Linked DNA regions of Homo sapiens: regions 1 and 2 are each linked to region 3. Evidence: fine-mapped expression QTL. A gene starts in region 3. Each other region holds a variant in brackets. All regions are shown on one strand. Distances are from middle to middle.

What was found. PIP is the estimated chance that this variant, and not a neighbour inherited with it, causes the effect.
Region 1: its variant is fine-mapped to the expression of SLC25A26 in lung (TOPMed, PIP 0.92).
Region 2: its variant is fine-mapped to the expression of SLC25A26 in whole blood (TOPMed, PIP 0.97).

Annotation. Positions count from the first base shown.
Region 1 is chr3:66,381,186-66,392,194 of GRCh38, forward strand. It overlaps LRIG1 (leucine rich repeats and immunoglobulin like domains 1), which reads right to left. Exons shown (of 19, transcript NM_015541.3): 13 at 4,796-5,116; 14 at 2,806-3,087; 15 at 1,797-2,216; 16 at 1,088-1,213; 17 at 294-446. Among named protein-coding and RNA genes, the nearest start is that of LRIG1, 110 kb to the right of the region's middle. RefSeq lists enhancers at 1,510-2,011, 2,012-2,511, 4,958-5,057, 5,518-5,687, 5,698-5,777 and 1 more. The variant T/G (reference allele first, on the strand shown) is at 4,573.
Region 2 is chr3:66,299,643-66,310,651 of GRCh38, forward strand. The region is part of intron 5 of SLC25A26 (solute carrier family 25 member 26); the gene reads left to right. Among named protein-coding and RNA genes, the nearest start is that of SLC25A26, 84 kb to the left of the region's middle. The variant G/C (reference allele first, on the strand shown) is at 4,845.
Region 3 is chr3:66,216,998-66,228,006 of GRCh38, forward strand. SLC25A26 (solute carrier family 25 member 26) reads left to right here and starts at 4,004. Exons shown (of 10, transcript NM_001379210.1): 1 at 4,004-4,130. The coding sequence starts at 4,098. RefSeq lists enhancers at 3,617-3,776, 3,947-4,006, 4,128-4,627.

The DNA of each region.
Region 1 (11,009 bases), 160 kb after region 3:
CCTGGTGAAAAAGTGCTGACTGAAACTCTATACTTCGTTTGTGCCTTGCCCCTTATTTAAGTTGCTTATACATCTAGAAAATTCATGCTCAGGCTTACCATGGCGTAGATTTATTTAGGAGAAACTATCCTGGAATTAAGAGAGCCAGGCCTGAGCTTCCCCTGTATATACTGAATACCAAATTTGGAGACAGCTGTGGACTAGGAATGTGTCTCCCCCTTTGATGTAGTGACTAGGTCAGCCCAAATTTCCATTTCAGAAAGAAACTACTTCCAATGGGAAGCATCTCATACCCATCTTATGTGGCCCAGGTGTCCCTTCAGCTTTCTCCATCGCTTTCCACGGCTCTTTGTGATACGCAGACCCAGCACAGAGCTTTGGCTGCCTGCAGGCAACGCTGTGAGTGTCGGGCTCTGGAAAGTGGCTTGCATCTCTTGGACACACACCTGCAAGTGGATTCCAACACGATTAGAAACTCTGGGCTTGGTATTTCACAGTAAGCCTTATGAAAGGAATGAGCAAGGCCGCTAGAACAGTCATTTTTTTTAAAAAGTTCTTCAGAGCGGTGGGGCTGCTGGTCTGGCAAGCAGCGTGTTTTCTGCTACTACTTCCCAGCAGGCAGGCTGGCCTTGTGAAATGAGCAGCTGTCTCAGGGTGAGCCTCTACAGTCTCAGGCAAGTGCTCAGAGGCCCCCACCGTTGGAAGTACCTCATCCTGGTGACAGCTTTCCAGTGTAAGACTGGATCACAGAGCAGACCTGGGCACGTTCCCCATGTAAGGAATGGGTTGGCTGGGTTCATGCACCGTAATGCCCTTTCCAGCTGCTACTCCAGGCAAGCCTACTTTATCCTGCCAGGGAGATGCTAAGCCCAATCCAGTGGCTTCCTGAGGGGACAGGACTTTAAAACCTTGCAGAACTCATGAAGACTGGGTCCAAAATAGCAGCCCTTAGTCATACCGCCTTCTACTTCACCAAGTTTGCCCCATCTAATGCCAGGTACCTGCCCTGTAAAGACCTGGAGGCCACCTCCAGCACCCAGAGACACAGTCACAGCAGAGCTCTGCTTCACAGTTACTGAGGCCTTACCATTGCTCTCAATGTGCCCATTGGCCTGAGGGCCACCCTCGGTCCTGACCACGGTTTCTTGTCGGTCAGAAAGGGTCCCCTGAGAAGAGAGGTAGCTTGGAACATCTGGTGGCACGACGGTTTCATCTGCAAGGAGACAGAACAAATAGAACACCAGGGTCTCAGTGACAAGAAATGCAGACACACGTTCACTGTCAAGCTCAGAAAGGGGATCCTCCCAGTGACGACCATCAGCGCTGTGCAGAGAGATGACATGGAGTCCATGTACGCAACAGGCCCTCCCAGAGCCTGCTCAGCTTTACTCTACACCCAGCGTGAAGAGCGCAGCCAGCAGATGCCAGACGCCACAAGAAGTGGAGACCAGTGATGGAAAGCCGGGGCTCACAGAAGTACCGCACTGTTTCAGGAACAACCTACTACGTGGCAGCAGGGCCTGTGCATAGGCGGCCTCTGAGTTAGCAAGGAGAGGGAAAACTGCATGGTGCGTCAGTTACTTGTATTTGTGAGTATTCCTGTTTAAGGTTAAATTTGAGAGTATTCCTGTTTAAGGTTAAGTTCCTCAAAGTTAAAATGGAATTAGTGGGACTAAACCCTCAGGAGTTCTGAACACAGTGCAATTCTTTCAAAAGCCACTGGAACCCGGCCCAGTTCCCCAGCATCACTGCCATTCCTCCCTCCTTGAAAGTCAGCTCCGCTGGCAGGGCCTGACCTGTGTTGGTGACACTGTACTCTTCACTCTTCTTCCTGGTCTGGTAGATGATGCACACCCAGACCAGTGACGTCAGGACGATGCTGCTCACGACAGCAATGGTGAAGATGCCTACCGTGGTCCCATCCTTCCTGCAGCCTGCTGCGGGCAGGACGCTCAGCTGGCTGTGAGCTCGCTCCGTGCCCAGGGTGTTGGACATCTCACAGGTATATCGGCCCGCATCCTCTGCCACCACGTTCTGAACCACCAGGAGCTGGTTGTCAGGGGTCAAGTGGTGCCGCTCAGTGAGGCTCAGCGGGCGGTCCCCCTTGAACCAGGTGATGCGGGGCGGAGGGTTCCCCGTGGCTTTGCATTGGAGGGCCACTGTTTCTCCCACAGATACCACACGGTCTTCCAAGGGGACCACCAAGGATGGGGTCTCTACAAGAGAGCAACAGAGATCTTAGTCATTCTCAGGGCCTCCGTTGCTCTGGCTCTGCCCGGTCTTCTGGACAACGGACAATCCAACATATCAATGAGATGCATCTGAGATTCTGTCTCAGAGTGGCAAGCTTTGGAGAAGACCCTTCAACTCATTGACTGAGTCATCTCCATGCTGGGAGTGGCTTCCACAGGGACAGTGAACCTCTGCTGACAAAAGCCCCTGCTATTCCCTAACTGTCCTGTGTCAGGCCTGTGTCCTTATTCTTGACCAAGCCCACATCCATCCTGTCCAATTCTTAAAATGTTCTGTAGCTCTTGACCAAGCCCACATCCATCCTGTCCAATTCTTAAAATGTTCTGTAGCTAAACCCTATGAAGACTCTTAATTCACCAGCTATCATTTCTTTTAAAGAGATAGAAACACTTGTTTAAGAAAAATTAACTCAACTCAAAAAGCAGCCCCAAATTTCAAACAGGGTCGAAAGGCCCACAACGCATACCACCCCTGGCCACACAGAGCATTTGAGAGTCTCTCTCTCTCGCTCACACACACACACACACACACACAGTAGAGCAATAGGCAAACCTAGGACAGTCAGGGTGGCATTAGCTGAAATAGAACCGGCTGAGTTCTGAGCAGTACAGCTGTAAACCCCTGCGTCATCTATTTTCACATCAGTGATGAAAAACACGTCGTCATCCGGCATGACATGCATGCGTCGCTCACGGGCAGCGGGGAAATCCGTGCCTCCATCCTTCTGCCAGGCAATCTGAGGGTTTGGGTGACCTGTGGCAGCACATTCGAGGCGGGCCATGGTGGTGGTCCGGATGGTTATGTCGTGGGGCGTTTTGGTGAATGATGGCAACACTGGAAAACATACGTATACAGGGTCGGGTTACGGGACAGCTAGATGCAAAACCAGGAAGTCCTCTGGCAAACACCTACCTGTCACTGTGCCCAGTGCCAGTTCACTTCTTTTCTCCCAATGTCTGCCCAGGACCACTCCTGCCACCTGTGAATCAGGAACCCCCAGCTTCTCCCACCACAGTTGGAACACTTCCATCCCATCAGCCTTGCATTGTACACCCTAGGCTGGCTATAGTCCCTTCAAAGCAAAGGCTTTTACTCTACATGGCAGTGCCTATACGGGAGTTGCAGGGGGTGCCCATCCACACTAGGTAGGCCTGATGCTTGCCTGCTTTACCCACCAAGAGAGAGGCTGTGGAGATGGAATTACAGAGGGAAGGTGGGCATGCCTCCACCTTGGGAGAGCAATGGGATGGCTCATCCGTTTGGATGGGTGTTCATGGGATGAATGGGATGGCTCATCCATTTGGATGGTTGTTCACCCAGGCTGTTCCTGCCCACTGCCGTATACCCAGGCAGGAAGCATTCAGCTTGCTAGCTTGCTCAGCCTAAAGATCGATGTCCTGACAGAGTGGGACGCATCCAGCCACGTGTCAGGCACCACCAGAGTTCCTGTCAACGTCAATTTTGGGGAGAGTCTAACAAACAGCTGAGTCTTTCGGAAGCTGTGAGGACTTGGAATAAGCCAAGACAACCCCACTACAGTGTGGTAAAGAAGGTGTTTCGCTGTGATCTGTGGGGGCTTAAAGAGCAAAGCAGATCCACCATTCTGATGATTCTCAAGCCAATTCTTTTTAACTAGAGAGTTAGTAATCAGGATAACCCCATTAGGTTACTGGGGTGGGACAGTAAACTCTTCAAGCTATCTACTCCCCACCCCCCTCCTCCAAACACACAATAACACATGGTCCCCTTGACAAGCTCCAAGGCTGGTTAATGAGTAAAAACCTGTCAACTGCCAGGACACTGTGTCTTTCAGGCCAGGGCTCACACCAGCCTTGCACTCCACAGTCTCTGGAGCAGTAGCTAGCCTCTGACTCCAATGCTGTGCCATCTACTCAAAGAACAGCAGCTTCCCCAGGCTAAGGGGTATTTGGAATTTGGAAGCCAGATCTCTTGGCTTATAGAGGATAAGAACTGGACAAAACAAGGCTTAGCTCTCCACAATTTGACTTAATAACTAGTTTTTGTTTTGTTTTTGAGACAGTCTCACTTTGACACCCAGGCTGGAATGCAGTGGAGTGATCTCGGCTCACTGCAACGTCCACCTCCTGGGTTCAAGCAATTCTTGTGCCTCAGCCTCCCAAGTAGCTGGGATTACAGGCATGTGCCACCACACCTGGCTAATTTTTGTATTTTTAGTAGAGACGGGGTTTCACTATGTTGGCCACACTAGTCTCGAACTCCTGGCTTCAAGTGATCTGCCCACCTCAGTCTCCCAACTGCTGGGATTACAGGCATGAGCCACAGCACCCGGCCAATAAC[T/G]AGATTTTTAAAACTCACCAAAAACAAGTAACTCATTGTGAATAACCCTTGAAATCTGCAAAACTTGCTCTGGGGCAAACCCAGGCAACAATAGGATTTAACAGTGCCCCACAGAAGCATGTGTGTGTCCTGTCTCAGTCATCTCTACATGGAAAGCTGAAAGGGCAATCAGGAGTGTGCTTTGTAGGATTCTGGTACTATAACAAAGATGGTGTTTCCATACCATTCACGGTGAGCCTGGCCTTATGTGAATAGGTGGAGCCAAAGTGGTTGGTGATGACACATTGGTAGCGGCCCTCGTGCCCGAAAGTGACCTGACGGAGGTGCAGGATGGTGGTGTACTCCATCACTTCCCCGTCCTGCGCGTGGACGTGGACAAAGTTCTCCATGTCTGCATTGGTCAGGACTTCATTGTCTTTCTTCCAGGCAAAGGTCATGGGGGAGCTGCTGCTGCTGGCTGCTGAGCATGTAAACCGGATGTCCTTGCCCACCATAGCCATGGTGGTTTCTGGCTGGGTGATGATCTGTGGCTTCAGGAAGTCATCTGGGGAGAGAAGGGTCAACTGTAAAGCGCTGGGTTCTTGGTACACAGAGGAACCAGCTGCTGTTCATGCTAACAGAAACTGACACAGACACCAAGCAGGAACCAGAGCTTGAGGTCCCTGTGCATCCTCAGCCCCACCAACCAGATGCCGTAAGAGTTGCACCATGGACATCTGACCTCATCTAATTAGAAGTCTGTGAGTACTGATCACCTTTATGATCACACTCCTTGATTAGAAATTAACCCACCACTTCTCAGTTCTCAAACCAGCCAGCCGGCAGTTTCCTTAAGACAACTGGCTCTGCCTGCTGACTTTCACACAAAACAGTCAGGCACCACTGGTCATGACTGCAGAGATCTTACCCACAAACCTTACTCCAAAAGGAGGGGGTGTAAAACACTTCCAAAATGTCAGAATAAGGACCTCCAAAAATCTGCACCTCCATTAAAACAAGGAAAACACCTGGAAAAATGGTCAAAAGCAACTTTTTCAGAATTCTGGAAAACCAAAGGCTTACAACAATCCATGGATTGTTGATTCAAGCAAATAGCAACATCTCAGAAATGTGAGCTTTGTGGTATTTTAACTTATCCAAAGCCCCATTCTTCCCTCCCCAGCTCCATGGTAGCCTTGAAACCCAGCAGCCTAGCAACCACTCAAGGGTCAGAATGGGCTCCCCAAAAGCCCCATCCTCAGAACTGACACCATGTGGCCTATCTGGCAGCAACACGGAAAGCCCCATTCACAGGATTTGCATTGATTTGCCCTGATCTAGTTTGCCGAGCAGGAGAAGCCCTAGCCCCAGGGCACATGACTACAACAATCAGTAGCCACTGTTCAACAGCGCAGCTGTCTGAGGGGACAATACCCATGGGGCAAACAAGCAGCTGGCCAAAAAACTATAAAGGAAAATGTGGGGAATACAGTGTTAATGGTGGGCTTTGAAAAGGTCCAATACATTCCTGGGGATCTAGACAGCCACATGCAGGTGCAAGGCCATGTGCACACCCAGGAAAGACGTGAGGGGGTCCTCATTTGTCACCTGTGGCTGAGCATGACTGTCTACACAAATAGGAAGTGATGGCACACCCCAACACAAACACACAAGCCGTCGGTAAAGGATAGGAGACAGTGGTTGTGGTGACTTCTCTGTCCAACCATTAGCTAACCACTAAACTAAACAAGCAGGGACTTAAGGGGACGGACTTTATATAGCCTTTGTCCAGGAAAAGTCACTAGGCAAGCTGTAACAATAAACAGCAACAGCAGCAAATCCTGGGGGAGGAGAAAGGGAATATCCAATTTCCAGAGTTGCCACATTATTTTATTTTAAATGCCCAATTTTCAACAAAATATTATGAAACACTCAAACAGGAAAAAAAGCAGTCAACAGAAACTGTCTCTGAGGGAGCCCAGACTTAGATTCACTAAATAAACTTTTTAAATCGGCAATTATAGGCATATTCAAACACCTCAAGGAAACCATGTCTTAAAAAAAATATCGAAGGATAGTGGCCAGGTGGGGTGGCTCACGCCTATAATCCCAGCACTTTGGGAGGCTGAGGCAGGAGGATCATGAGGTCAGGAGATCAAGACCATCCTGGCTAACATGGGGAAACCCTGTCTCTACTAAAAATACAAAAAAAAAAAAAAAATTAGCCGGGTGTGGTGGCAGGTGCCTGTAGTCCCAGCTACTAGGGAGGCCGAGGCAGGAGAATGGCATGAACCCAGGAGGCGGAGCTTGCAGTGAGCCAAGATCACGCCACTGCCCTCCAGCCTGGGTGACAGAGCAAGACTCTGTCTCAAAAAAAAAAAAAAAAAAAAAAAAAAGGATAAAGTATGAGAAAATTTTATAGCAATAAAGAGAAATTATAGATATGAACCAAGTAGAAATTTTGAAACTTAGAAGTACAATAACTGAAATGAAAAATTCACTAGAGGGGCTTGACAGCAGAACTGAGCTGGCAGAAGGAGGGGGCAGGGAACTTGAGACAGTCAACTGAGATTATGTAGTCTGAGAAACAAAGAAAAAAGAATGAGGTAAAATGAAAAGAACCACAGAGACTTGTGGGACAGCATCAAGCACAACAACATACAAATCATGGGAGTCCAAGAAGGAGAAGAAAGAAAAAGGAAGAGAAAAAGTATCTGCAAAACAATGGCCCCAAATTTGATGAAAAATGTGCAGCCACACATCCAAGAATCTTAATGAACTCCAAGTAGAGTAAATTCAAAGATCCAAACGCAGATTCATCATAGTCAAGCTGTCAGGTGCCAAAGACAAAGAATCTTGAAAACGCAAAAGAGGAGCAACTCATCACATTCAAGGGATCTTCATTATTATTAACGGCTGATTTCTTACCAGAACCCACAGAGAACAGAAGGCAGTAGGAAGATATTCAAATTACTGAAAGAAAAACGTTCAACTATGAATTCTATGTATTAAAAAACCTATCCTTCAAAAATGAAGGGGAAATTAAAACATTCCGATGTTTTTATTTTAAACACACACAGAGCAAGTTGACTGTTATCAGGCCTGCCCCACAAGAAATCCAGGAGAGTATTTAGTATGGCTGAAATGAAAGGACATCATATAGCAACTCCAATCCACACCAAGAAATAAAAAATCCCATTAAAGGTAACTACACAGGTAATACAACACACAGGATACGTGTATTTTTGTAACTCGCGTCTCCTGATTTAAAAGACAACTACATAAACCAGTAATTATAAGGCTGTGTTGATGGGCTTAATGAAAATGTAATGTGTACGACAACAGTAACACAAAGGAATAAAACTGGATCTTAATAGGAACATAATTTTTGCATATTACTGAAGTTAATTTCATTATTTATTTGAACTAGATTGTTGTAAGATGTTAATTTTAATTCCTATGGGCAAAACTAAGAAAATAACTAAAAAATACCCGTGTATTTAAAAAACAGGGAATTAAAATAGTACAACAGAAAATATCTTTTCAATAAAAAAACTAGTCAGTATTGGAAAAACAATGAAACAAAAAGATAGGACACATAGAAGAAATAAGGGGCAAACTCTACCTTATTAGTAAATGCATTAAAGGAAAATGAATTAAACACTCCAATCAAAAGGCAAAGATTACCATAATGGATAAAAAAAACTATGATCCAGCTATAGCCTACAAGAGACACAGTGTGGATTCAAAGATACAAATAAGCAGTCACCAAAAGAGAACTAAAGTGTCCATACTACTAACAGACAAAATAGGCTTTAAGACAGGAGTTTTTACTACAGAGACAGAATAATATTTTATAATGTAAAAGGGTCAATGCATCAGAAACACGTAAAAATGATAAATACATATATACCTAATGGAGCGCCACAAAACATAAAATCTGACCAGATTAAAGGAAGAAATAGTGCAACAATAATAGTTTGTACACTTCAATACCCCACTTTCAACAACGGATAGAACTAGTCAGAAGATCAAGGAAACAGAAGACTTCAACAACACTATGAGGGGACTTCAAAAAGTTCATGGAAAACCGAATTATAAACTTTATTTCTCAACATAACCTCCATCAAGTTTGAAACTCTCCTGAGTGATGATACCAGCCATTTAGTCCATCCCTAAAGAACTGAGGGTCCTGGGACATATCAATGCAGTCTTTTTTACATTATTAATTGAAGAAAATTGGGTGCCCTTTAAAGATTTTTAAAGATAATAACTAAAAAGAAGTCAGATGGAGCCAAATTAGGACTTTTAGGTGGATGTCTCATGATTTCCCACCAAAACTCTCACAAATTCACTCTTCTTTGTATTAGAGCTTCTAGCCAGTGCAACAGGCTAGAGAAAGAAATGAAAGCCACCCAGACTGGAAATGAAGAAGTGAAACTACCTTTTTGCAAATGACATGATGATCACATATAAAGAAAATCCTAAGAAATTTACTGAAAAACTTAGAATAAATGATGTCAACATATATGCAGGATACAAGATCAAGATACAAAATTCAATTACATTTCTGTATACTTGCAATAAATATTTCATTTTTGAAAATCCAAAAGTGAAATTAAGGATTTCATTTACAATAGCAAAAAGAATAAAAACAGAAATACCTTTAACAGTAGTTGAAGATGTGTACACTGAAAGTGACAAAACATGACTGAAAGAAATTTTTAAGAAGCTAAGAAAAAAGGGTGGACAGCCCATCTTCATGGATTGGGAAGACTTAATACTGTTAAGATGGCAATACTTCTCACATTAGTCTATAGATTCAATGCAACCCACATCCCACTTTCCTTTACTGCAGAAATTGACAAGCTGATCCAAAAAATTGTAAGGAAATGGCAAGGGATCCATAATAGACAAAACAATTTTGAAAAAGAATAAAATCAAAGGGCTTTGTAACACTAAGGTTATAAAACTCTTAGAAGAAAATAAAGGAGGAAATCTTTGTGACCTTATCTCAGGCAAATAGTTTCTTTGATATGACATCAAAAGCATACGTAATAAAAGAAAAAATAGAGATATTGAACTTCACCAAAATTAAAAACTTTTGCATTTCAACTATCAAGAAAATGAAAAATAGCCCTCCCTCAGACTGGGAGAAAATATTGGCACAACATGTATCTTATGAAGGTCTCATATCCAGAATACATAAAGAACTTTACAACTAAACATTGAAAAGACAAATGAATACTGGCAAATGATTTAAATAGCTGTTTTTCCAAAGAAGATATATATATATATGTATGTCCAATAAGCAGGTGAAAACATGCCTAACATCATTAATCATTAGGGAAGTGCAAATCAAAACCACCATGAGACTCTATTTTACACTCACGAGTACATCCAAAATAAAAAAGACAGTTAATAACACATGCTAGCAAAAATGGGGAGAAATTGGAATTCTCATGCATTGGTGATGGGCATGTAAAATCATGAAGCCACTCTGGAAAACAGTTTGGCAGTCCCTCAAAAAAGCTGAGCACAGAGTTAGCGTATGACCCAGCAATTCCATTCCTAGGTTTGTACCCAAGAGAATCACACAAAACCCTGTATATGAATTTTCACAGCAGCATTATTCATAATAGCCAAAAAGTGGGGACAATCTAATGTCCATCATCTGATAAACGGATAAATAAAATGTAAACCCATTTATTCAGCCATGAAAAACAGGAATGAAGTACTGATACATGCTTAAAAATTATGCTAAGTGAGAAAAGCCAGTTACAAGAGACCGTATACTGTATGGTTCCATTTATATTAAATGCCCAGAATAGGCAAATGATGGAGACACAATGAGATTAGTGCTATCAAGGGCCTGGGGGCAGAGAATAGGGAGTGATTACTAATGGTATGGGGATCCTTCTAGTGGTGATAAAAATGTTCTAAAATTAGATAATAGTGATGGTTACACAGTTGTGACTATTATAACAACCATCAATTTATATATTTTAAAGGGGTAAATTTTTATGATATATAAATTATATTTCTTTTTAAAAGCAGCTTTATTGAGAATACTTCATCTACACTACAACTCACTCATCTAAAGTATACAATTCAATGGTTTTTAGTATACTCACCAATATGGGCAACCATCACTACAGTCAATTTTACAACATTTTCATCACTTCAAAAAGAAATGCTGTACATTTTAGCTATTACCCCTCTCTTTCCATCCCTCCCCATCCTTAAACTACTACTAACCTAATCTCTACCTCCACAGATTTCCCCATTCTGGACATTTCTATGAATGGAATCATATAATCTAATGGTCTTTTGTGGCTGACTTCTTCCACTTAGCATGACATTGTCAAAGTTCATTCATGTTGCAGGACTACTGATTGCTTTCACAGCCTAATGAATATTCCATTGTATGGCTATACCACCTTTTGTTTATCCAGTCA
Region 2 (11,009 bases), 83 kb after region 3:
TCCAAGGGGGTATGTGTGCATGAGGTGTGTGTTTATAGAGTAACAGTTAAATGTCTCGAAATAAACTGATTTGGATTTTTAGGTTATAGATGTTTTTGTTTTTTATTAAACGTCTTGATTGTTTGACTGTCATGGTTGTTTGTATAACTCCTTGAGAAACTTCCACATGCGGGTAGTTTTTGAAAAAGAAAATATTTATTTGCTTCAGTTTTTCAGGGGATGGTATCATACTGCTTTTTCACATTTTATGGGTGACATATTTGGCTATCTCTGGGCAAAAATCCAGTTAAAAATAATAGTATTTAATATTTAATAAACTACCAGGCTTTTGAGCCATCTGGAACTTTATTTTCTTTGCACGCAGCATCTGAGTTTCAGCTGTTAGCGTTTCTCCTTTGCTCTGGGAAGGGTCAATTGCTTTTAAAGTCTTTGAAGCTTGCTGTGTCAGCCCTTTTCATATTTTCAAAATGCCCGTGTAAAAGGGTTTTTCATCCATTCATGCTGATAAGTCTTTTGAACTTGAGGTTTGAACCAAGCTAATCAAATTTAATTATAGCTTAAATCCCGTTACAGTGAACTCCAGTGGACTTCTAGGCTAGGGTTTTTTTGTTTTGTTTTTTTTTTTTTTTTTGGTGTTATACTGGAATTTAGCCATTACCAATATTACTTGAAGTGAGCAGGCCATTGACTGCAGTTTGGGAGACCTTTTGTAATGGTCAGATTTTAGTTATAGTGACATTGGCAATATGATTTGAACTTTATTCTTTTCCAAAGGAAATAATTGAATTAGCCACAAGTAAAATTTCTTGTTCTTTGCATATATTTCAAATTACCTTTTCCTATTTGTCTTAAACAATTTTGAACAATTAAAATCTTAAAAGTACTTTCTTAAAGAGTCCTTTGGTGGTGGTGTCGCTGATGCTCGTTTTTTGTTTTTAAGATCCATAACAGAATAAGGATTTATATACATCCTCCTAGGGATAATGTCATGGTTTCTGCATATTTGCATAGCATTTTGAGAGAGACTTTTTCCTTTTTGCTTCATGAAAAAAAGTTTGAGCAGTATAATTTTCTAGAAAGAAGGAAATATAAATATTTTAGACTGTAGCATATACTAAAGGGAGGTGGACTAGTACTGATATTTTTAGTGCTTTCTTCAAAATGATTGCTAACACGTGTATTATATTTTAGTATCTTGTTGCATTCACTTGTTAATCTGTATTTATGCTTCTGTATATGCAGAGTTTTTTGTTTTTTCCAACACAATTTAAAATTCTACTTAAAAATTACTTGTTTGGATTTCTAAGCAGATTTGGGAATTACGGCATTGAAAATACTTTGTTGCTTTTTATGTCTCAATAAAGTCTATGCATTTTTATAATATTGGACCAGTGTTTGACCTGCCAGAATAAAATGATGATAGAACTCATTGTGTCCTCAAATAATTGGATTCTGAAATGGAAGATAGGGTTCATGAAGAATAAAAAATAGTAGATCTCATGTAAAGGTGAAAATTTACTTTTCTTTTTAGTATTCAACTCAAAATTGCCAGTTTCCCTGAATTTATTATAGCAATTTCTCTTGTTTTAAAATGAAGTGAAATGTGAAGTTAATTTACATACTAGCTGCTTTGAAGTGTAATTTTGCTTGCCAAGTTGTTACAGATTTTTATACAGACTTTTTAAGGAATTTAGTAATAATGCTGCCACAGTGTGTAGGACAAGTTCATGCCTTGCATCTTTGATGGGCGTTAGAATTGTTTGCCACAGTTCCCACTCTGGTTGGAGGGCACAACCAATTCGTCTATGCCTTTTGACTTCCATGCCGGAGAGTGTGACTTCTGCATCTGTTTGTTAGTATTTTTATGTAAGCAGAAGCCAAGAATGTCATTAGAAAGTAAAACTTTAACAAGAGGGACTGAATCCTACTAGGCCAACATAATTTATAGAGAGCAGGGGCTAACATTTTCATTTGGGAAAAATGCTTCCATTTCTATACGTGTTTAGACGGAGTACCTTAAGCATTGTTTTAGTCTTTTCCTATCTACATGTTACCATTCAGAACTTAGGTGGATGAAACACATTTTATATGTAGTTACAGAGAGATACAGAATTAAAAGCCTACAGATACAAGCATTAGAATTGTGACGGGGGTAATTAGAAACATGGAGTCTGAAGGTAGCCTATCTGGATTCAAATCCCAGCTCCAGTACTTAGCCATGTGGCCTTAGGCAAGTTATTTAAACTGACTTATTTTGTTCCTCTGTAAGATGAGAGTAACAATAATACCAACCTCATAAGGTTGTTGGGAAAATTACATGTGTTCCTGCATATGAAGTGCTTAGGACAGTGCCTGAAATACAGTCCTATATAAATGTTATAATTTATGATTATTGTTGTGATGATAATGATGATAATATCACTAGCAGCTCCTCTGAAACTTGTTGGCCTCATCCAAGGCCTATCACTTAGCTTTATCCCCAGTGTCTCTAATACTCCATCTGTTGTGCAGAAGTATATCCTGAACCTTCCTCCCTCTGAATTTGCCCACTTGGCACCTCTTCATTTGCTCTTACAATCTCTAGACCATAAATTTCAAAGACGTGGCCCAAAATGTTGGACTCAAGGTTTTTGCAAACTACAAGCTAACATGTTAAAATTGAGTGGTTTCATATACAACTCCAGTTATCCAAGTTTTCTTGGACAATCTGGGTATCTGGTCATAGTGGGCCTACATTTCTGCATGGCAGTAATTGTCTAGAACAGAGTAGCGGCTGCTTGTTTTGACAGAAACTGCTCTCCATGTCATCAGAGTCCCTGCCACTTCCTGTTGTTTTGACACTTTTCTCATTCTAGTCATCGATATCATTTTTTTGGGTCATGTAATACTTATTTGCTGCCAGCAGTTTAGAGTAAGCAGCGGTTCTCCACCATGTGTTCTGCACACTCATACTCCACTAGGCCTTTGCTGATAGGTCACCAGATTTTGATTCATGTGTAAAACATACATTAGTTAAAATCAAGTATGCATAATAGTGTTTTGGCTTTGTCTGTCAGAAGCAACATTGAGCTGGGCAGGTGTGCTTGTGTATTAGAGCTAGATACAACTTGGTGAAAAGGTTAGCCCATATTTAAGTTCAAACCAAAGAACAGTGATTAAAGCCCAAGCCAAAGAAAATTGAGATATGGGAGAGCTTTGCCTTCTGAGTGTGTAAGGGAGCACAGGTGGTGCACGCCATGTGTTCAGTGTCTCAGTGCTAGGGAGTCAGCAGGGATAAAGAAAGATAACTGATGCCTTAGAGCAGAGTTTAAGGGGCTGTGGATTGTGTCCATGGGGACCCCCCTTTGCATTCCAGGCTGTGTAGCAGCATCCCTGGCCTCTACCCACTAGATACCAGGAGCACCTCCCGTGAGTAGTGACAATTTAAATGTCCCCTGGGAGGTTGAAAGATGCAGAAGACATTATAATATAGTAGTTATCATGGTCTAGTCACTGTTGACATCTTTAATACTGCTTTTAGTCTTTGAATCCTTTGAAATATTGGCTTTGTACTCCACTTTTCTAAAGCATTCAGTATTTATTTTATGGCCATTTTACTACAGTATCAGAGAGGAGATATACTTCTCTCCCCCTCTCTAGTCAAGCACAACTGCAAGTATCTTTAAGGCGCAGCCACCTTTAAGGAAAGACTTCTGGGAACAGCTAACTGTGTTGGAGGAACTGGGCTGTGGCTCGTCCTCTGCTGCTCGTTAGCCCTGTGAACCTGGGGAGGCTAGCTCCCTCTCTTAGTCTTGGCTAAAAGTGAGGTGGCTGGATCAGATAATCAGCAAGATGCCTTCCAGGTAAGATTAGGCTGTAAGTCAGAAAATATTGTAGGACTTCTGAAACTTTAACTGCCAGTCAAGATCACTTAACTAGAATGTCCCACATTTTTCACTCCATTGAAATGAGTAACTTCAAGTGTCATGTAACATCAGGATCACTTAGGGGAATGTCTAGAGGTGCAGTAGATGATTGTTAGCTTTCTGTTGCTGTGTAATGAATTACCACAACTTTAGTGGTTTAAGGTGACATATATTGATGATCTCATGGGTCTCTACAGCAGCAGTCTGAGGACCGCGTGGCTGAGTTCTCCATTCACTGTTTCACACAGTGACAGTCAAGGTGTTGCAGGGACTGTGATCTCATCTGAGGCTAGGGTCCTCTTCCAAATGCACAGGGCGGTTGGCAGATGGCATTTCCTTGTGGCAGTATGACTGAGGATCCTGTTTCTTGTTAGCGATTGGATGGTGACCACACTTTACTTCCAGAGGCTGCTCTGAGGTCCTTGCCATGTGGCCCCCTCCATAGGCCCTTTTACAACATGAAATTTTATTTCTTCAGAGCCAGCAGGAGAATCTCTCACACTTCAGATCTTGTTAGGAAGGGGCTGGTTTTTCTAAGAACTCACCTTTGAAGTCAAGCCCATCCACGATAATTTCCCTCTTGATAAACTCAGAACCAACTGATGGGGGAACTTAATTAAATCTGCAGAATCCATTCATATTTCTGATTAAATGTAACTTCGTCACAGGACTTGTCTTTGTCCTGTTCACGGTCCCATCCACACTGGATGGGGGAGGATTATACAGGGCGGGTACATCAGGGAGTGGGAATCTTGGGGGCCTCCCACAATGCCTCTTGATTTAAAAAGATTCTGGAGCATACTTTTTCTTATGTCTCATATCTAAGCTAATATCTTCCCTTTTCTGTTCAGTTTCAGTTTTGTGTTCACATGTCTGTTGTCATATTTTTTCTTCTATTTTTGCAGGAGGAGGATTAGAGTCAAAGGTGTGGGGAGGCTT[G/C]TGAGCTTCTGTGAGTTGTTGTGTGTGGCTTGTATACATGCTGTTATACTGGTAAGCTCTGTAACAACCCCTGATTGCTGAACATGCTAACTGGGATATACGCTACATGGTTCACTGGTGCTTTCAGGAAACCATCGAGGTGTCAGGCATTGAGGATTCGTTGTTCACTAATACATTCTTTAAAATGCTTTTAGAATCATTATATCCAGTTTCCTTTCTCTCTGTACATGGGACTGATTAACCACCATGTGGGTGGAAATCTAATTTGTTGCTGGCTCAGAACTTTGCAATTTTCAATACTTTGCAGAATTATCCTGTTTACCAAATGAATTGTGATAAAAATTGATACATTAGTATTAAGAGGATGACTTATAACATGTACTATGATTTATAGGGCCAAAAAGACCTGATAAACTCACAACCATTTTACCCCATAATGTTAAGAAACTCAAAAGATTTTGTCACCAAAAAGTGTATCTTGTGATTTATTTTTTATGACACGGTAGTATCACTTGTTAGAGTTCTGAGATTCTTTATTAGCAACTGACAGTTTTCTAGGAACTGAATTTTTACACTTAGAGCTGCGAAAAGCCAAAAGCATTTCTAAATGATCTCCATCCCATTCCCCTCAAATAATAATGTACACGCTCATTATAGTTTGTTAGTTTCTCATGCCTTTCTTTGGTGTTCTCATGGTTGTGAGAAGTTGGGAGAAGCAGCGTCTAAATTTAGGAAATGGATTTCTTTTCTGTTACTAAGTACATTGCTATAATTTAAAGACAACAGGAGAACATGTCTTTTATCTCAAATGGGTCTGCTATTTTTCTTCTAAGGTGTTTCTCTAAGAGTAACATTATGTAATTTAATCAGTGTTATAAAAAATGGAATTCCTGGTTAGGATTTTAAAAGGTGATGTTAACAGATATCAAATTTTTTATATTAGGGATTGAAGGACTTTTATTTATTTATTTCATTTTAATTTTTAAGCTCCAGGATACATATGTAGGATATGCAGCTTTGTTACATAGGTAAATATGTGCTATGGTGGTTTGCTGCACCTGTCAACCCATCACCTTGGTATTAAGCCCAGCATGCATTAGCCATCTTTCCTAATGCTCCCCTTCCCCCCACCCCACCCTGTGAAAGGCCCCAGAGTGTGTTGTTTCCCTCCCTGTGTCCATGTGTTCTCATTGTTCACTTACAAGTGAGAGCATGTGGTATTTGGTTTGGGTTGATTCCTTGTCTTTGCTATTGTGAATAGTGCTGCAGTGAACATACATGTGCGTGTGTCTTTGTAATATAATGATTTATATTCCTTTGAGCATATACCCTGTAATGGGATTGCTGGGTCAAATGGTATTTCTGGTTCTTGCTCTTTGAGGAATTGCCACCCCATCTTCCACAATGGTTGAACTAATTTACATTTTCACCAATAGCGTAAAAGCATTCCTGTCTTTCCTCAACCTCGCCAGCATCTATTGTTTCTTTCTTTTTTTCTTTTTCTTTTCTTTTTTTTGAGATGGAGTCTCGCTCTGTTGCCTAGGCTGGAGTGCAGTGGCACTAACATGACTCACTTTAACCTCTGCCTGCCAATTTCAAGCAGTTCTCCTGCGTCAGCCTCCCGAGTAGCTGGGACTACAGGTGTGCACCACCATGCCCAGCTAATTTTTTGTTTAGTAGAAACAAGGTTTCACCATGCTGGCCAGGCTGGTTTCAAACTCCTGACCTCGTGATTCACCCACCTTGGCCTCCCAAAGTGCTAGGATTACAGGCGTAAGCCACTGCGCCTGGTCTGTTTCTTAACTTTGTAATAATTGCCATTGTGAATGGCGTGAGACGGTATCTCATTGTGGTTTTGATTTTCATTTCTCTAATCAGTGATGTTGAGCTTTTTTTTCTTATGTTTGTTGGCTGCATGAATGTCTTCTTTTGAGAAGTGTCTTTTCATGTCCTTTGCCCACTTTTTAATAGGGTTGTTTTTCTTTTTCTTGTCTCTCTCTTTTTTCTTTTCTTTTTTAATACTTTAAGTTCTGGGGATACATGTGCACAACGTGCAGGTTTGTTACATAGGTATACATGTGCCATGGTGGTTTGCTGCACCCATCAACCTGTCATCTAGATTTTAAGCCCCACATGCGTTAGGTATTTCTCCTAATGCTATCCATCCCCTTGCCCCCAGCCCCCAACAGGCCCCAGTGTGAGATGTTCCCCTCCCTGGGTCCATGTGTTCTCATTGTTCACCTCCCACTTATGAGCAAGAACATATGGTGTTTGGTTTTCTGTTCCTGTGTTAGTTTGCTGGGAATGATGGTTTTTAGCTTCATCCATGTCCCTGCAAAGGACATGAACTCATACTTTTTTATGGTTGCATAGTATTCCATGGTGTGTATGTGCCACATTTTCTTTATCCAGTCTATCATTGATGGGCATTTGGGTTGGTTCCAAGTCTTTGGTATTGTAAATAGTGCTGCAGTAAACATATGTGTGTGTGTGCCTTTATAGTAGAATGATTTGTAATCCTTTGGGTATATACCCAGTAATGGGATTGGTGGGTCAAATGCTATTTCTGGTTCTAGTTCCTTGAGGAATTGCTGCACTGTCTTCCATAATGGTTAAACTAATTTACACTCCCACCAACAGTGTGAAGGTGTCTGTTTCTCCACATCCTCTCCAGCATCTGTTGTTTCCTGACTCTTTAATGATCGTCATTGTAACTGGAGTGAGATGGTATCTCATTGTGGTTTTGATTTGCGTTTCTCTAATGAGCAGTGATGATGAGCTTTTTTTCATTTGTTTGTTGGCCGCATAAATGTCTTCTTTTGAGAAGTGTCTGTTAATATCCTTTGCCCACTTTCTGATGGGGTCGTTTGTTTTTTCTTGTAAATTTATTTAAGTTCCTTGTAGATTCTGGATATTAACCCTTTGTCAGATGGATAGATTGCAAAATTTTCTCCCATTCTGTAGGTTGCCTGTTCACTCTGATGATAGTTTCTTTTGCTGTGCAGAAGCTCTTTAGTTTAATTAGATCCCATTTGTCAATTTTGGCTGTTGTTGCCGTTGCTTTTGGTGTTTTAATCATGAAGTCTTTGCCCATGCCTACGTCCTGAATGGTATTACCTAGGTTTTCTTCTATGGTTTTTATGGTTTTAGGTCTTACGTTTAAGTCTTACATCTTGAGTTAATTTTTGTATTAGGTATAAGGAAGGGGTCCAGTTTGAGTTTTCTGCATATGGCTAGCCAGTTTTCCCAACACCATTTATTAAATAGGGAATCCTTTCCCCACTGCTTGTTTTTGTCAGGTTTGTCAAAGAGCAGATGGTTGTAGATGTGTGGTGTTATTTCTGAGGCCTCTGTTCTGTTCCATTGGTTTATGTATCTGTTCTGGTACCAGTACCCTGCTGTTTAGGGTTGCTGTAGCCTTGTAGTATAGTTTGAAGTCAGGTAGCATGATGCCTCCAGCTTTGTTCTTTTTGCTTAGGATTGTCTTGGCTATACGGGTCTTCTTTGGTTCCATATGAAATTTAAAGTAGTTTTTTTCTAATTCTGTGAAGAAAGTCAATGGTAGCTTGATGGGGGTAGCATTGAATCTATAAATTACTTTGGGCAGTATGGGCATTTTCATGATATTGATTCTTCCTATCCATGAGCATGGAGTGTTTTTCCATTTGTTTGGGTCCTCTCTTATTTTCTTGAGCAGTAATTTGTAGTTCTCCTTTAAGAGGTCCTTCACATCTCTTGTAAGTTGTATTCCTAGGTATTTTATTCTCTTTGTAGCAGTTGTGAATGGGCGTTCACTCATGATTTGGCTCTCTGATTGTCTGTTAATGGTATGTAGGAATGCTTGTGATTTTTGCGCATTGATTTTGTATCCTGAGACTTTGCTGAAGTTGCTTATCGGCTTAAGGAGATTTGGGGCTGCGATGATGGAGTTTTCAAAATATACAATCTTGTTAACTGCAAACGGAGAGAATTTGACTTCCTCTCTTCCTATTTGAATACCCTTTATTTCTTTCTCTTGCCTGATTGCCCTGGCCATAACTTCCAGTACTATGTTGAATAGGAGTGGTGAGAGAGGGCAGCCTTCTGCTGTGCCGGTTTTCAAAGTTAATGCTTCTAGCTTTTCCCCATTGAGTATGACACTGGCTATGAGTTTGTCATAACTATTCCATAACTATTCATAACTATTCCATAACTATTCCATATATTCCGTAACTGTTCCTGGTTTATTGGGTGTTTTTAGCATGAAGGGGTGGTTAGCATGAAGGTGAATTTTATTGAAAGCCTTTTCTGCATCTGTTGAGATAATCATGTGATTTTTGTCATTGGTTCTGTTTATGTGATGGATTATGTTTATTGATTTGTATATGTTGAACCAACCTTGCATCCCAGGGATGAAGCCTGCTTGATCATGGTGGATAAGCTTTTTGATGTGCTGCTGGATTCGGTTTGCCAGAATTTTATTGAGGATTTTCGCGTCCATGTTTATCAGGGATCTTGGCCTGAAATTTTCTTTTTTTGTTGTGTCTCTGTCAGGTTTTGGTTTCAGGAAGAAGCTGGCCTCATAAAGTGAGTTAGGGAGGAGTCCTTCTTTTTCTGTTGTTTGGAATAGTTTCAGAAGGAATGGTACCTCTGGTAGAATTCGGCTGTGAGCCATCTGGGCTCTTTTTGGTTGGTAGGCTATTAATTACTGCATCAATTTCAGAACTTGTTATTGGACTATTCAGGGATTCGACTTCTTCCTGGTTTAGTCTTGGGAGGGTGTATGTGTCCAGGAATTTATCCATTCCTTCTAGATTTTCTAGTTTATTTGCATAGAGGTGTTTATAGTATTCTCTGATGGTAGTTTGTATTTTTATGGGATTAGTGGTGATATCCACTTTATCATTTTTTATTGTGTCTATTTGATTCTTCTCTCTTCATTGGTCTGGCTAGTGGTCTATTTTGTTAATCTTTTCAAAAAACCAGCTCCTGGATTCATTGATTTTTTTTTTAAAGTGTTTTTCATGTCTCTATATCCTTCAATTCTGCTCTGATCTTAATTATTTCTTGTCTTCTGCTAGCTTTCGAATTTGTTTGCTCTTACTTCTCTAGTTCTTTTAATTGTGATGTTAGGGTGTCGGTTTTAGATCTTTCCCACTTTCGCCTGTGTGCATTAGTGCTGTAAATTTCCCTCTAAACACTGCTTTAAATGTGTCCCAGAGATTCTGGTATGTTGTGTCTTTGTTCTCATTGGTTTCGAAGAGCTTATTTGTTTCTGCCTTAATTTCGTTATTTATCTAATAGTCATTCAGGAGCAGGTTGTTTCCGTGTAGTTGCGTGGTTTTGAGTGAATTTCTTAATCCTGAGTTCTAATTTGATTGCACTGTGGTCTGAGAGACTGTTTGTTATGATTTCCATTATTTTGCATTTGCTGAGGAATGTTTTACTTCCATTTATGTGGTCGATTTTAGAATCAGTGCTGTGTGGTGCTGAGAAGAATGTATATTCTGTTGATTTGGGGTGGAGAGTTCTGTAGATGTCAGTCAGGTCCCCTCGGTCCGGAGCTGAGTCCAAGTCCTGAATATCCTTGTTAATTTTCTGTCTCGCTGATCTAGCTAATATTGACAGTGAGGTGTTAAAGTCTCCCACTATTATTGTGTGGAAGTCTAAGTTTCTTTGTAGGTCTCTAAGAACTTGCTTTATGAATCTGAGTGCTCCTGTATTGGGTGCATATATATTTAGGATAGTTAGCTTTTCTTGTTGAATTGACCCCTTTGCCGTTATGTAATGCCTTTCTTTGTCTTTTTTGATGTTTGTTGGTTTAAAGTCTGTTTTGTCAGAGACAAGGATTGCAACCCCTGCTTTTTTTTGCTTTCCATTGGCTTGGTAAATATTCCTCCATCCCTTTATTTTGAGCCTATTTGTGTCTTTGCATGTGATATGGGTCTCCTGAATACAGCACGCCAGTGGGTCTTAACTCTATCCAATTTGCCAGTCTGTTTCTTTTAACTGGGGCATCTAGCCCATTTACATTTAAGGTTAATATTGTTATGTGTGAATTCGATCTGTCATGATGCTAGCTGTTTATTTTGCACATTAGTTGATGCAGTTTCTTTGTGGTGTCAGTGGTCTTTACAATTTGTTGTTTTTGCAGTAGCTGGTATGGGATTTTCCTTTCCATATTTA
Region 3 (11,009 bases):
GTGGTATCATGAAATACCTGGTAAAGCCTTTACCTTGCATAAAAGGAGAGACTATGTATTTCTTCTTGATTCTGAAAGATACCTGATAAATTACATTTCCCTCCAAGTTACCAGAAAATGACATCAACACAATTTTTTCTTGCAAAGTTAAAGACAACCATTGCATTGAAGAGGAAAGGAATTTTTTTCTTAATTTTACTTCAAAGGATGTATTAAATCAAAATTAAAGGTATAAGTCTAGGTTAAATTTTCTCTTAGGGAAGGAATTACATCAAAAACTTCCAGGAACATTAGTAGCTAGAAATAAGATTTATTTTCACTTAGGAGGCTATAGTAGTATGTATCACAAAGTACTTATGCACCTTGATAACTTATCAGTCTCTCATTCATAATATTCAGAATCTCTAACTTAAATAGGAAAATACGGAATAAACCGAATATTTCTATATGACAAGCACTGGACTAAAACTTTCTGTGCATATATTATTTATTCCTCATCATCCTGCGAGATAGTAATATTTTAATCAACTTTATTGAGCTATAATTTACATATACTTTTTTTTTTTTTGAGATGGAGTCTTGCTCTTGTCACCCAGGCTGGAGTGCTGTGGCACAATCTCAGCTCACCGCAACCTCCACCGCTCGGGTTCAAGCGATTCTCCTGCCTCAGCCTTCTGAGTAGTTGGGACTCCAGGCGCGCATCACCACACTCAGCTAATTTTTTCTATTTTTAGTAGAGACAGGGCTTCACTGTGTTGGCCAGGCTGGTCTCAAACTTCTGACCTCAGGTGATCCGTCCACCTTGGCCTCCCAAAGTGCTGAGATTACAGGTATGAGCCACGGCGCCCAGCCTTATAGTTTATATATACTAAGTACAACCATTCTAATTGTGCAAGTCAATGCGTTTTAGTAAATGTACACACCCATGCGACTACTACCACAATAATAACAAGAGAATATCTTCATCATTGCAAACTATTGTTTTGTGCCCACTTCATAGTCAATACTTTGCCTCTACCTCCACCGCCTGGAAAGCATTTATATACTTTCTGTCACTATAATTTTGTCTTTTCCAGAATTTCACGTAAGTGGAATCACAATACATGTGGTCTTTTTTTTTTCACATAGCATAATGCTTTCAGATTAATCCATGTTGTTTCATATATCAGTAATTCATGTCCGTTTATTGTTGAGTGATGTTCCATTATAAAGATGTATCATAATATGTTTATACCACCAGTTGATAGACATTCAGGTTGTTTTCAGTTTTTGACTATTATGGATAAAGCTGCTTTGAAATATAATGTAAAAGTATTTGTATAAATGTTTAGTTCTCTCGGGTAAATACCTAAGTGTGGCATTGGATTTTATAATGGTTGTACCATATAAAATTCGAAACAGCAATGTATGAGATTTCCAGTTGCTTCTCATCCTTGTCAACACTTGGCTTTTTAATTTTAGCCACTCTAGTGAGTTCTAGTGTATTCATATCTCATTGTGGTGTTCACCGGCATTTCCCTGATGTGGTAACCAGTTTCCAAGATGGCACCCAGTGATCCTCATCTTCCGGTATTTAGGCTTTTGGGTAGTCCAGCCCCATAATAAATGTCGATTACCTGTGTAAACAATAGACTATTGCTGGAATGACAACTGAGTAATTTATGAGAACAGGTCATGAGAGACTTTGTAGTTTCTGTCTTGTTCTCTTTCAGACCACTTACTCTAGGAACAACCAGCTACTATATCATGAAGACACTCAAGCAGTACTATGGAGAGATGTATGCCATGAGGGATTAAGGCTACCTGCCAATAGCTAGCACTAATCTGCCAGTTATGGGAGTGAGCCATCTTGGAATTGGATCCTGCGGTCATGATCAAGTTTTATGATATGGCCCTGGCCACCATCTTGACTGTAGTGTCATGAAAATTTCTGAGTCTTAAACACCCAGCTAAATGACTCCTTGATTCTTGACGTATGAAAACTGTGTGAGGTAATAGAAGTTTATCGTTGCTTTAGTCTGTTAAATTTTGGGGGTAATTTGTTACGCAGAAATAGACAAATAATACAGATTTTGGTACTTGGAGGTGGGCGCTACTGTAATTCCTAAACTGTGGGAGTGCCATTGGCACCAGGCAGTAGGTGAAAGGTGGGAAGACTGTGAGGGAAATGTCAGTGAAAGCTTATTAATAGAAACTTGATGGCCTTTGAGGAGGCTGCCGGTGAGGGTTTATAGGAATGTGAAGTAGGCAGGATTCTAAGGTGGCCCTCAAGATTCCTGGCCCCTAATGTGTTTTGCATAATCACCCCACTGATTGTGAGCAGGACCTGTGAGTATGACAGAACATTACCACCATGATTATGTTGTCACGTATGGCAAAAGGAATTTTTCAGATATAATTAAGGTCTCTAATCAGTTGACTTTGAGTTAATAAAAATGGAGATTATCCTGGGTAGGCCTGACCAAAGCACATGAGACTTTGAAAGACATTAATAGCAGCAACAGAGATTCTTCTGCTGGCATTGACAAAGTGAACTAGCATGTTTTGAGAGGGCCTACAGGCAGCTTAGGGAAAGGTATTCTGGGTAGAGAGAACAACATGGGCAAAATTAGGAGGCTTGGAAGTGTATAGTCTGTCTGTGTGTAGTCCGGCTAGTGGGAAGAGTGACAGGAGACACCAGCTGAGAGGTGTATACCATGCTAGGGAGCTGGACTGTCTCCATTGGCAGCAGAGGGGAGTTGTAAGCAGGGAAATAACATTACCATCACCTTTAGAGAGTACTTTCTATGAGCCAGGAACTAGGCTAAGAACTTGAGTGCATTATCTCATTTAATCTATTAATATAATAGTACCGCATGACAAAGTGACTATCATTATCGCCACTTTACAGGGGAGAAAACTTAATCTTGGAAAACTTATCCCCAAACCCAGCAGGTGATAGAATTTGAATTCCATCTAACACCTAAAGCTATTCTGCGTATCATTTCTAGATCATTTTACCTAGAAGAGAATAAGAATAATTATAAGAATAATTCTAGCAGTGTTATAGAATAGGGATTGAAGAAAGGCCAGGCAAGGAGCCTGCTCAGGTTATTATAACGGTTTTGAGGAAAGATGATGAGGGCATTAAGTATATTTTCAGTGCTTGCTCTGCTGTGTTCTCTGTAGCCACATTGAGTCGGTTACTTGTTGGAGCATCAGGAGCCTCTGTAAAATGAGGACACTAGTGTTGCTGACATCATAGGGTTGGTGAAAGGATTAAATGAAAAAATGTCTGTCAATCACTTAGCACCACGTCTGAGATGTAGTTGGCCCTTAATATATACAGAAGTTTACAAGGTATTTGTTTGTTTAATAAAGACAGGTCCACTCCAAGAAATGTTATTAAGTACTTAATAACGTGTGCTTTGAGGTGTACACATGAGTACAACAGCGAACAACATGAGCAGGTAAATAACTGAACAAACAAATAATTTTAAATGCAGTAACTCTGTAAAGAGAAATGGAGGATGCTAATTTTTAACTCCGGTCAGGAAACTTCTGATGTATTTTTCTATATCTTTATTTAATAATCTTCTGATAATGAGTTAATTTAATATAAACTCAGATAAAATTTTTTGACAAAACTAAGAGATAAACCAAAATGAAATATCCGATTAGGATCCCGAATCGCGCCTCCCGAGGTTAGTACTACCCCTCACGACTCCTCCCTCCGCCACAGCCACGCCTCTTCTGGGTTTACAGTTCAGAATCACGCCGGCCTCATTCTACCGCTGCTCTCTCCTGGATCTCGGCCACGGATCTTTTGCTCGCGAAAGTTCCTCCGTCTAGCTGCACACAACGCTGCTGCAGGAAACCGAGGTAAGGGATTTGCCGAGACTTAGCTCCACCACACTCCCCGAGGCCCCGCCCCTCCTCTCTGGCCCTCCCCTAGGCCCAGGTGTCTCGCGTTGCACGTGCAGTTGTTGTGGTTCTACGTCACGTGGTCCCGGAAGTTCAAGACAGACCCGCCTCAAACATGGCGGCGCCCAGCGCGCGAGGACGTGATCCGCTTCTGCTCCGGCTTGGATTGTAGCCTTGACGAGGTCTGAGCGACCATGGACCGGCCGGGGTTCGTGGCAGCGCTGGTGGTGAGTGCGGGGCGGTGGGGTGGGTTGCTCAGAGTGCCGGCGTCCGGCATTGGAGCCCGCGGGCGTTCTCTGCACTGGTTTTCTTCCGGTTTTGCGGGCTGGACTGTCCTCGGGTTACTGGCAGCCAGGTCTGAGAGGGAGCACGAGGCTCCCAGGCCACCGGCGGGCCAGGTGTTAAGGCTATGTCTGTACTGCCAGGTCATAAGAGCCAGGTGGGGGAAGGAAGGTGAGTCATTGTCTTTTGCACCCTCATTTACTTAAAAAAGAGCTTCTATTATACACTGTTAACTACTCTTTCATTAAATAGTGTAACTACTCTAGAGATCTTGGGAATTAAAGAAATGTATGTAACACAACAACAAAAACCTTACTCACATCGCTCCCAGCCCTTCTATTCAATACTACGTTTCTCATTTTGCTGCATCTCTTTTCAGTCTTAGAAAATGACATGTCCTTCTGTTCATTCAATACATAATCTGCTATTTCTGCTCCAAGCCTAGGCTTTGGAGAAATATTGGTGAGCACACATAGCTCATCGGGAACGCTGCGGAGTCAATAAACAGGCTTAGTATTTAATTCCGTAGCAGAAAACTACGAGAATCAACATGAATTAACAGAAAAAAAAGTCCTTTACCAAATATTTTGGAGCGTCTGGTAGAGGATACTAGATACAGCAGTTAACAAAACAGAGTTTGGCTGCCTACGTTTTCATTGTGTGGAATGGGCAGAGACAGACAAATAATTTTTAAAATGATTTTCATAGGGAAAATGGAGGCCCACAGTGATTTAGTCACTTAATTATCGAATTTTGGTGTTGCAGGTGTTGAGGATAACATGGTGAACAAGATAGACCTGCTCCTAAGGGTCAGGTGTTAGAGACAAAATAGTAAAATGACTGTTGGGATAAATAACAGGTGGGCTAGGTTCAGGGTGTTAGGGGAATATATGGAAGTAGGGATGTCTTAGCCAGACTTGTAGGATGATAGCTTTAAATCTAGATTTGTTGAAACTTGTATAAGGTAGGTCTTAGAAATATAAAGAAATAATGTTACTGATTTTTTTTTTTTTTTTTGAGAAGGAGTCTCACTCTTCGCCCAGGCTGGAGTGTGGTGGCGCCATCTCGGCTCACTGCAGGCTCCACCTCTCGGGTTCACGCCATTCTCCTGCCTCAGCCTCCCGAGTAGCTGGGACTGCAGGTGCCCGCCACTACGCCCAGCTAATTTTTTGGGTTTTTAGTGGAGACGGGGTTTCACCGTGTTAGCCAGGATGGTCTCGATCTCCTGACCTCGTGATCCCGCCCGCCTCGGCCTCCCAAAGTGCTGGGACTACAGGCGTGAGCCACGGCGCCTGGCCAATGTTACCGCTTTTAAGGAGCTTTCCTGTCTAGCTGGTGACACAGCAGCAGTAGTTTGTCAGCTAACATTCCTGTGCCAGGAACTGGGGTAAGCTCTTTACATACATTATCCCATTTAATTCTCACAATAATTGAACTCTTATCCTAATTTTCCAAATGAGGGAAGTGGGATACCAAGAGATTAGATAACTAGTTCAAAATCACACAAGTGAGATCCATTTCGTCTGTGTAAGTATTGGAGCTCATATTCCAACCCAGGTGATGTCACCTGGGAGTCGTGCCCTTATCTGCTTCTTGATACTCTCCGAAGTCAGCAAAGGTTGCAATTGCTAAAACACAGGTGAGTGCTGCAGTTAACAAAAGAATGGATTTAGTATATACTTAATTAAAGTATGATACACATGCAGTAAAGTATACTTTTTTCCCAATGTATTTATAGAGGGTAAAATTAGAATCAATAGGTGGAAGTTTCAAGAAACTAGATTTCATTCCAGGTAAAGGAAAAACATTTTATTTATGCATTCAGCACACAATTTTTCTTCCATCTATTCTGCCCACTGGGTATTGTGGTAGGCTTTGTAGATACAGTGGCAGATAACCCCATTTCAAGTAGGGAAGAAAGGCCAGCAGATAAAACAGTTGCAATGAATAAGTGCTATGAAAGAAATGAACTGAAGATGCGACAGAGTAGGCAAATATTGGTGAACCTCTTAGATGGAGTGACCAAGGAAAGCCACGAAGTGGTAACATTTCAGCTAAGACCTAAAAGATAGGAAGGGGCTTGAATTTTTGATGATCAGAGTGGGAGGTTCAGTCATGGGGAATGGCTCAAGTGGAAAGAGCTTAGAGTTTTCAAGTGGTGAGGCCTAATGGGTAAGGATAGCATGGCAGGGGTTGGTATGGGAGGGGTAGGCAAAGCCAGCTGAGGTGGGGCTTTATGGGCTAGGGAAAATAATTTGGATTTCATTTGTAGTGTAATGGAAGCCATTGAAATGTTTTATTATCAGAGTAGTACGGAAATGGAGTGGCTACTTTTTAATGTCTTGGAGTGCGTTTGAGACACAGTGAACACTCCTGAGGGAGTTTGGTTTTGCTTACTACTCTTTTACCAGTACCTGGCACTAGGTAAGCACTCAGTACTACTTTGAATGAAAAGCCTAGATGATTGCTGAAGTCTTGAAACTTGGATTTGAAGAATTAAATGAGGTAACATTAAACACACAGAGCAGAGCCTGGCAAGTAGCAGACATTGAAATGCTCCCTTCCTAAAGCTTCATGAAGAGGATTGAATAAGTGGAGAGCCTCTGGGATGTTAGTTATCATTTGGAGCACAGAGTGGGGTATCCAGAAACAAAATCCTCAAAGAGTACATTGATCAGTGCATACTTTTAGGAAAGCAACTGGAACTATGTATTAGCAACCTAAAGATATTTATATAAATAACATTTAACTCAGTGAAGACAGTAAGAAGCTGCTAAAACATGGGACAGAGGGGAAGAATTAGACAAACAATGGGAAACCCATTTCTTGGACTAGTCTGCAGCCATAAAAAATAGTGCTTGTGAAGAGAATGTACTATAATTACATGGAAAATGCTTATGAGATAAAATTAAGAGAAAAACATTGCATGTATGTATATTTGCTTGTACCTAATTAAAGCTATGTTAAAACCTATTCCATTCATGGGGAAAAAAAGCCAGATTGAAATACTCCAAAATAGCACTAAGTATTTTTGGTGGTAGGATTACATCGTGTTAGTCTGTTCTCATGCTGCTAACAAAGATACCTGAGACTGGGTAATTTATAAAGGAAAGAGTCTTAATTGACTTACAGTTCCATTTGGCTGGGGAGGCCTCACAGTTGTGTGGAAGGCAAAGGAAGAGCAAGTCATGTCTTACATAGTGGCAGACAAGAGAGCATGTGCTGCAGGGGAACTCCCCTTTATAAAACCATCAGATCCTGTGAGACTTACTCACTATTACCAGAAGAGCAAGGGAAAGACCTGCCCCCATGATTCAGTTACCTTCTACCAGGTCCCTCCCACAACACATTGGAATTATGAGAGTTACAATTCAAGATGAGATTTGGGTGGGGACACAGAGCCAAACCATATCATTCCACCCCTGGCCTCTCCCAAATCTCCTATCCTCACATTTCAAAACCAATCATGCCTTCTCAACAGTCCCCAAAGTCTTAACTCATTTTAGCATTAATTCAAAAGTCCACAGTCCAAAGTCTTATCTGAGACAAAGCAAGTCCCTTCTGCCTATGAGCCTGTAAAATGAAAAGCAAGTTAATTACTTCCTAGATACAATGGGGTTACAGGTATTGGGTAAATACACCCATTGCAAATGGGAGAGATTGGCCAAAATGAAGGGGCTGTAGGCCCCATGCAAGTCTGAAATCCAACAGGGTAGTCACATCTTAAAGCTCTGAAATCATCTCCTTTGACTCCATGTCTTACATCCAGGTCACGCTGCTGTAAGAGGTGGGTTCCCATGGTGGCTTTGTGGGATACAGCTCCCCTCCTGGCTGTTTTCATGGGCTGGCATTCAGTGTCTGTAGCTTTTCCAGGCACAGGGTTCAAGCTGTCAGTGGATCTACCATTCTGGGGTCTGGAGGACAGTGGCCCTCTTCTCACAGCTCCACCAGGTGGTGACCTGGTGGGGACTCCTTACTGGGGCAGCCACATTTCCCTTCCACACTGCCCCAGTAGAGGTTCTCTAGGAGAGCCCCACCCCTGCAGCACACCTCGGCCTGGACATCCCGACGTTTCCGTACATCATCTGAAATCTAGGCAGAGGTTCCCAAAGCTCAGTTCTTGTCTTCTGCACACCCACAGTACCAACACCATGTGGAAGCTGCCAAGGCTTGGGGCTTGCATCCTTCGAAGCCATAGCCTGAGCTCTACCTTGGCCCCTTCTAGCCACGGCTGTAATGGCTGGGACACAGGGCACCAAGTCCTGAGGCTGCACACAGCAAGGGGGCCCTGGACCCAGTCCAGGAAATCATTTTTTCCCTCCTAGGCCTCCAGAGCCTGTGATGGGAGGGGCTGCCATGAAGGTCTCTGACATGCCCTGAAGACATTTTCCCCACTGTCTTGTCAGTTAACATTTGACTCCTGGTTATTTATGCAAATTTCTGCAGCCAGCTTGAATTTTTCTCCAGAAAATGGGTTTTTCTTTTTTACCGCATCATCAGGCTGCAAATTTTCCAAACTTTTATGCTTTGTCACCTCTAGGATGCTTTGCCACTTAGAAATTTCTTCTGTCGGATACTGTAAATCATCTCTCTCAAGTTCAAAATTTCACAGATCTCTAGGGCAGGGGCAAAATGCTGCCAGTCTCTTTGCATAGCAAGAGTGGCCTTTACTCCAGTTACCAAGAAGTTCCTCATCTCCATCTGAGTCCACTTCAGCCTGGATTTTATTGTCCATCTCACTGTCAGCATTTTGGTCAAAGCCATTCAACAAGTCTCTAGGAAGTTCCAAACTTTCCCACATCTTCCTGTCTTCTGAGCCCTTCAAACTGTTCCAACCCCTGCTTGTTACCCATTCTGAAGTCGCTTCCACATTTTCAGGTATCTTTATAGTAGCACCCTACTGTGGGTACCAATTTCCTGTATTAGTCTGTTCTCACACTGCTGATAAAGACATACCCAAGACTGGGTAATTTATAAAGGGAAGAGGTTTAATGGACTAACAGTTCCACATGGCTGGCAGAGGGGCCTCACAATCATGGTAGAAGGCAAAGGAGGAGCAAAGTCACGTCTTACATGGCTGCAGATGAGAGCGTATGCAGGAGAACTCCCCTTTATGAGATCATCAGATCTTGTGAGACTTATTCACTATCACCAGAACAGAATGGGAAAGACCTGCCACCATGATTCAATTACCTCCCACCAGGCCCCTCCCACAACATGTGGGAATTATGGGAGCTACAATTCAAGATGAGATTTGGTTGGGGACCCAGAGCCAAACCATTTCATGTGCGTTCTTTTCTTTTTTTTTTGAGACAAGGTCTTCCTCTGTTGCCCAGGCTGGAGTGCAGTGGTGCTGTCTCTGCTCAAGTGATCCTCCCACCTCAGCCTCCTGAGTAGCTGGGACTAGAGGCATGCACCAACCACGCCTGGCTAATTTTTTAATTAAAAATTTTCTTGTTTTGTAGAGACAGGGTCTTGCTGTGTTGCCAGGGCTGGTTTTGAAGTACTGGCCTCAAGCAATCCTCCTGACTCAGCTTCAAAGTGCTGAGATTACAGGCATGAGCCACTGAGCCCAGCCCATGTTGTTCTTACAGTTTTTAGAAAATTTTTTTTGTAGAAAGAGGTGTCACAGGTATGAGCCACCACACCTGGCCCACCCTAAGAATTTTTGTCAAAACATTAAAAACGCTTTGGTTGTAATATATAGGGGAAAAATTGCAAAGCTGATGTTTATTTAGTACACTGTAATTAAAAACATTAGAAACATTAATAACTTAATTTTTTGGACAAAACCTTATCAACAGTAGTTTGAACATTTGCTTGTGTTCTCATTATGTATTATAGAAGAAGCATCTTTTTATGCCTTGGCAAGTTGTCATACTGCTTTCTCAGTTTGGATCAACTTCTAACATTTTATTTTTTGTGCTTTCAATGTTGTGAGTTCGTTTAATGCGAAGACTTGCTGACATAACTTAGTCTGGGACATTTTCATCCTTTTCATCACAACTACTTTCCTTATTTATGTTAAATTTGCTCTCACTTATTTTTTCTAGTTACTTATCTAGATTAATGACAGCAGTGTGAATATTTCCATGGCCAGCTGTTTGTTCTCTAATACCATTTATGTCTGATTTTTGTTTAACTTTGTGTTACCACTTTTCATTTTTTTTGCATTTTCATCTTTGTTCATCAGTTTTCTGTCTATTTTTATAAAATGTCGTGTGCATTTATTACTGGGAGATGAGGTAACAACTATTTGCTGTCTGTGCGTAAACTGAGTAATAGGCAGTGATTTCTGTTAATTGTATTGTGATTTGTGGACTGAACAAGTGGTGAAGTTTACACTTTATCCAGTTACTCATAGTTAATATGCTGTGGTAACTGAAATTTGACCTGGGTCATTGGGAGATTCATGTTATTTAAGTAAATCATGGTAACTGAAATTCATGTATGTAGGTACCATGCAAAGTGAGGACCGCTTGTAGTTTTTGTTTTCCTGTTTTTAGTGAGGTGATTTTTGGCTGGTGCTGTCATCTGGGGAGCTTTTTCGTGATACTTGGGTGTCTTCTCACTGGACCTGCCCTTCTGCTGAGAACCACCTTACAGGCAGTAGGATACTTGAGGGGAACAATGTGGGTTATGATGGCAGGGGTTCTTGGGTGGAGTGAAGAAAGGTAATACGAATGAAGTATTGGGTATACTATTAAAAGAGGTTTTCTGTTTTGTTGTTTTTCTTGTTTTGCCTCTTATCTTTTCTGGATAGTGACCTCCTAGTTTTCAATTTGGAGTAAAGGGCATCTTTAAAGATTATCTCCAAATTTATA